Regions from separate parts of the Homo sapiens genome. Here region 1 is linked to region 2. The links come from fine-mapping of genetic effects on gene expression. A gene starts in region 2. The other region holds a variant in brackets. All regions are shown on one strand. Distances are between the middles of the regions. Region 1 has its middle 44 kb from the start of TINCR. Region 2 holds the start of CLPP (caseinolytic mitochondrial matrix peptidase proteolytic subunit).

What was found. PIP is the estimated chance that this variant, and not a neighbour inherited with it, causes the effect.
Region 1: its variant is the best candidate, but not a certain one, in a credible set for the expression of CLPP in hippocampus (GTEx, PIP 0.89).

The regions. Positions count from the first base shown.
Region 1 is chr19:5,523,008-5,525,823 of GRCh38, reverse strand. No RefSeq gene overlaps it. Among named protein-coding and RNA genes, the nearest start is that of TINCR, 44 kb to the left of the region's middle. The variant C/A (reference allele first, on the strand shown) is at 1,374.
Region 2 is chr19:6,360,190-6,362,959 of GRCh38, reverse strand. It overlaps CLPP (caseinolytic mitochondrial matrix peptidase proteolytic subunit), which reads right to left and starts at 1,429. Exons shown (of 6, transcript NM_006012.4): 1 at 1,188-1,429; 2 at 1,020-1,091; 3 at 418-514. The coding sequence starts at 1,385. It also overlaps a transcript of ACER1 not described here. RefSeq lists an enhancer at 1-754 and a silencer at 953-1,182.

The sequences.
Region 1 (2,816 bases), 840 kb after region 2:
AATGTGGGGTGAGGGAGGGGAGGATGGATGGGCAGATGGATGAAAGGTGAGTGGAGGGATGGTTGAATAGGGGATGGGAGATGGAGGGATAGGGGATGAAAGGTGGATGGGTGGGGGATGGGAGGGTGTGTGTGTGTGTGTGTGTGTGTGTGTGTGTGTGCGTGTGTATGAATGGATAGATGGATGGGTGGATGAATGAGTGTGTGATGGATGGATGGATGGGTGGATGGGTGGATAAATGAGTAGATGGTTAGGTGGGTGGGTGGTGAATGGATGAATGGATGGGTAGGTGGGTGGATGGATGGATGGATGGATGGATGGAAGGATGGATGGATAAATGGATGGATGGGTGGATAAATGAGTAGATGGTTAGGTGGGTGGGTGGTGAATGGATGAGTGGATGGGTAGGTGGGCGGATGGATGGATGGATGGATGGAAGGATGGATGGATGGATGGATAAATGGATGGATGGATAAATGGATGGATGGATGGATGGATGGATAAATGGATGGATGGATAAATGGATGGATGGATAAATGGATGAATGGATGGATGGATAGATGGGTAGATGCATGCATGAATGGATAAATGGATGGGTAGGTGGATAGGTGAATGGGTGCATGGATGGATGGATGGATAGATGGATGGATGGATGGATGGATGGATGGATAGCTGCATGGATGGATGGGTGGGTGGTGGGTGGATGGGTGAATGGATGGATGATGGATGGATGAGTGAATGGTTGGGTGTGTTGATGGACAGGTGGATGGCTGGGTTGATGGATGGATGAGTGGATGAATGGATGGTGAGTGGATGGATGGGTGGATGGATGGATGGTTTTTGGGTAGGTGGTTGAGTGGAGGTAAGGATGGATAGGCCTGTAGGTAGATGGTGGAGGAAAGGGTAGATGAGTGAATGGGGATTGTAGGGGTGGGTATATGGGTGGGTGTGTAGGTGAGTGAAAGGGGGATGGGATATGAAGGTTGGGGGATGGAAGGCGGACGATGGGGAATGGGTGGGCGGGTATATGGGTGAGTGTATGGGGGTTTGGGAAATGGAAGGAAGGATGGATGGGTAGGTGTTGGCTGGATGGGTGAAGGATGGATCCGTGATGGAGAAGGCAGATACGTGAATGGTCGGATGATGGAGAATGGAGCCCCACTTTGATGAGCTGGGCTTGGCTGGCTGTGGATCCTGGTGAAACCCTCAACTGGGGCCTGTCAAGTGGCTCGGAGCATTAAGCAGACTCCATGTGTTGAAGTTGGGGGAGGGGGCGGATAGATGCGACTCAGGCCTCAGCCTCTCTCTGCAGGACTCAGCTTGTCTTCAGCAGGGAAGCCTGGGGAGCCAGGCCTGCCAGTGGGAGTTCACTC[C/A]CCCCTCGCCACCCTGCAAACTCATGTTCCTGCTACCAACAGCAAACTGCATCCCCCTAACGAGGGCCCCACTTTTAGCTGGGAATGTGCCCCCTTCCACCCTCACTTGATTCAGTCCTGCTGCCCGCCGATTCAATTATTCCACTGCTGGGGTGGCTGGCAATTTTCAGTTGGGGTTGAACGCTGTCTCATATCTGTATGACTTTTAACAGCATGGACACCCAGAGACAGAAACACAGAGGTGAGAGAGAAGAGGGGAGAGACAGAAGCAGACAGACACAAACCAAGGGAGAAAGAGAGGGAGAGACTGTCAGAAAGAGAGAGACAAAGACAGAGAAGGGAGGGTCTGGATTAATCAAGCTCCCGTGGCCTCAGGGGGACTTCCAACCTATGCAAAACAGCAGCCTCCCTGCTAAGATCCTGACCTCTTTTGTTTTTGAGACAGAATCTTGCTCTATTGCCCAGGCTGGAGTGCAGTGGCGTGATCTCAACTCACTGCAACCTCCGCCTCCCGGGTTCAACAATTCTCCTGCCTCAGGCTCCCAAGTAGCTGGAATTACAGGCACCCGCCACCATGCCCGGCTCATTTTTTGTATTTTTGGTAGAGACGGGGTTTCACCATGTTGGCCAGGCTGGTCTCCTGACCTCAGGTGATCCACCTGCCTCAGACTCCCAAAGTGTTGGGATTACAGGCGTGAGCCACCGTGCCAGGCCCCTGACCTCATTTTAACCCCTTCCCTCCACACATGCACTTCACACTCAGCCCAGATTTTGCAGAGGCTGACCTGGCTCATGGCCGGCACAGCTCATAGATAAAAGGACAGCTGTTGGGAGGCAGTGAGCTCCTCACTCAGGGAGGAGTCCAGGCATGGGCTATGCACTGAAAATTCCTTTCAGATCCTAGGTGTGTGCAAAGTCCCCATTTTTGTTTTCGTTTGTTTTTGTTGTTGTTTTCTTTTTTTGAGTGTCAGGGACTGGGACGGAGTGAAGAGTGGGAGAGAGGGAGGAAGGGGAGGCAGGGAGGGGACGGGGCAAATCATGCAGGCCTTTGTGGGCTGCTGGGAGGACTTGGGCTTTTACGTCCAGGGAAGTGGGAGCTATGGAGGGCTGTGGACAGAAGAGGGACAGGACCTGACTCAGGGGCTCACAGGCGCCCTCTGGCTGCCAAAGAGAGGACAGGTCGTGGGGGTGAAGATGGAAGCCTGGGAATAGGATGGAGGAAAATGCGTTGGTTTAAGTGACGGATGTGGGGGAAGAGAGTTCCAGGCAGAGGGAACAGCCTCTGCAAAGGCCCTGGGGTAGGACTGTGCCTGACACGTTGGAGGAACAGCGAGGAGACCTATGTGGCTGAAGCCACACGGACAGTGTGGAGGGAGGGATGGGGAGAGAGGGAAGAGGAGAGTGCACTGAGGCGATGAGGGGGTAGCGGGCAGGTCATGCAGG
Region 2 (2,770 bases):
CGCCACATTGCCCGGCTAATCTTTGTACTTTTTTTGTAGAGATGGGGTCTCACTACGTTACCCAGGCTGGTCTTGAACTCCTGAGCTCGAGCAATCCGCCCGCCTCAGCCTCCCAAAGTGTTGGGATTACCGGTGTGAGCCACTGTGCCCGGCCTAAAATCTACCAATTTTTAAATGTCAGCCGGGTCAGGTTGGCAGAACAGTATGTGCAGGATCAAAGAGGCCACATCCTGACTTGTGAACCGAGGCTCAAAAGCCAGCAACAGGCACCTTTTGGTGGTTTAAAGCCACTTCTGGAACTCTGACGCTCTGCACCCTTTCCCAGAGAGAGAACATCCCTGACCCGGGATTCTGGTCCCCTGAGTCACCCGTGTGCCCTGACGAGTGCCCCTGGCACCCAGGAAAGACCCTGCTCACCAGGGCTGTTGATGTACATGTGGATGGGCTTCTTGTTGCTCTCGGATTGCAGGAAGAGGAGCTGTGCGATAACAAGGCTGGCAACGCTGTCATCGATCTGCAGGTGGAGAGGGCAGGGGTGTCCCCAGATTCGGGGTGGGGAGAGAGTTTTAAGGGAGGCTGGGGATGGGTCAGGGAACCAGGAAGGGGGACCAGAGCCCAAAGTAAAAGGGATGGGGAAGAATTTAGGCCCCAGAAGGGGATGGGGAGAGAGTAGTGGAGAGGACCCAGGGGGTTTGGAGCACAGGAAGGGGGGAGTCAGGGGGCTAGGGACACAGGAAAGGAAGGGGTGAGAATGGCTGGGGAGAGTCTTGAGCGTAGGAATGAGGGGAGCGGTGCCAGGTGTCAGGAAGGAAGTCGGAGATTAAGAGCCGAGGAGCAGAGAAGGGGTGAGGAGCGGGTTGGGGGACCGGGAGCCAGGAGGGGAGTCAGAAGGGGAGGGAAGGGGGTTAGAAGGGGAGCGGAGCCTGAGGGAAAGTCTGGGGCCAGGGAAGGAGGGGCGCAGGGAGTGTCGGCAGGCGCTTGGGAGAGTCCTGGGGAGGGTCCCGGCGCGGGGCGCTCACCGGGCCCATGACGCACACGATGCGCTCCCGCAGCAGCCGCGAGTAGATGTCATAGGCGCGCTCGCCGCGACCCTGGGGGTAGAAAGATGGAGGTGAGGGGCCGGGGCAGCCAGCCGATCCCCACCCAGCCCGGAGCCCCCGAACCGTGTCCCCGCCCGGCCGCCGTACCGTCTGCTCCACCACGATGGGAATGAGCGGGAGAGCCCGGGTCGCCGTCGCGTGCAGGCACCGCTGCAGGGCCAGGCCGTTCTGGAGTGTCCGCTGCGGCGGCCGCTGCGCTGGAAAGTGAGCGGCGAGGCGAGGCCCCAGCGCGGGGTACCTGCATGACGCCACCCGGGCCCCCCCTACCAATATTCCGGGCCACATCCCTCCGCACGCCCCGGTCGGCTTCCGTCCGATGGCGGAACTACAGCTTCCGGCGTGCTTTGCGCCTGGGAGCTCGCTCGCTAGGCCGCTCACTTCCAGGAGTCTGGGCGGGCGCCATTAAGGGTGAGGCGGGGATAGGGACGGAGCCTGAAAGGGAGGAGCCAATGAAGTAAATTGAGTGGGCAGGGCTGGAGAAGTTTTAGAGTCTCCAGTTCGAGTCCCCTTACCGACCAATTCGTCTTCTTTTTTTTTTTTTTTTGAGACGGAGTCTTGCTCTGTCACCCAGGCTGGAGTGCGGTGGCACGATGTTGGGTCACTGCAACCTCTGCCTTCTGGGTTCAAGCCATTCTCCTGGCTCAGCTGCCCCAGTAGCTGGGATTACAGATGCACACCACTGCACCCGGTTAATTTTGTTATTTTTAGTAGAGATGGGTTTCACCTTGGCCAGGCTGGTCTTGAACTCCTGACCTCGTGATCTTCCCACCTCGGCCTCCCAAAGTACTGGGATTACAGGCGTGAGCCACCGCGCCCGGCCTCGTCTTCGTTTTCTACTGTTTCTGCTTTATTTATTTTTATTTTTTTGAGACAGAATCTCACTCTGTGGCCCAGGCTGGAGTGCAGTGGCGCCATCCTAGCTCAATGTGGCCTCAAATTTCTGGGCCCAAGCAACCCTCCCTCCCACCTTGCTCTCCAGAGTAGCTGGGACTACAGTTGTGTGCTACCACATCTGGCAAATATATATATATATGTATTAGAGATGGGGTCTTACTATGTCGCCCAGGCTGGTCTCAAACTCCTGGCCTCAAGTGATCCTCCCACCTTTGCCTCCCAAAGTGCTGGGACTACAGGCATGAGCCACCACACCCCACTTATTCCTTATTTTAAAAATAGCTGCAGGGCCGGGCACAGTGGCTCACGCCTGTAATCTTAGCACTTTGGGAGGCTGAGGTGGGCGGATCACGAGGTCAGGAGATCGAAACCATCCTGGCTAACACGGTGAAACCGCGTCTCTACTAAAAATACAAAAAATTAGCCGGGCGAGGTGACGGGCACCTGTAGTCCCAGCTACTCAGGAGACTGAGGCAGGAAAATGGTGTGAACCTGGGAGGTGGAGCTTGCAGTGAGCTGAGATGGCGCCTCTGCACTCCAGCCTGGGCGACAGAGCCAGACACCGTCTCAAAAAAAAAAAAAAAAGCTGCAGTGTTCCCACAGCTCATCTTGGAAGAGGGGTCCCAGAGAGGACTTAGCCTGGGTCTTGGCCTTGAAGAGCTTCCAGCCTGGTGTGGCCGACTTCTACTGAGACCTCCTCATTCATTTTTTGGCCACCTGTGGAGTAGATTGTGGGAGCCCAGAGAAGGGTGTTGTGGATTCTTCCTGGAGATCAG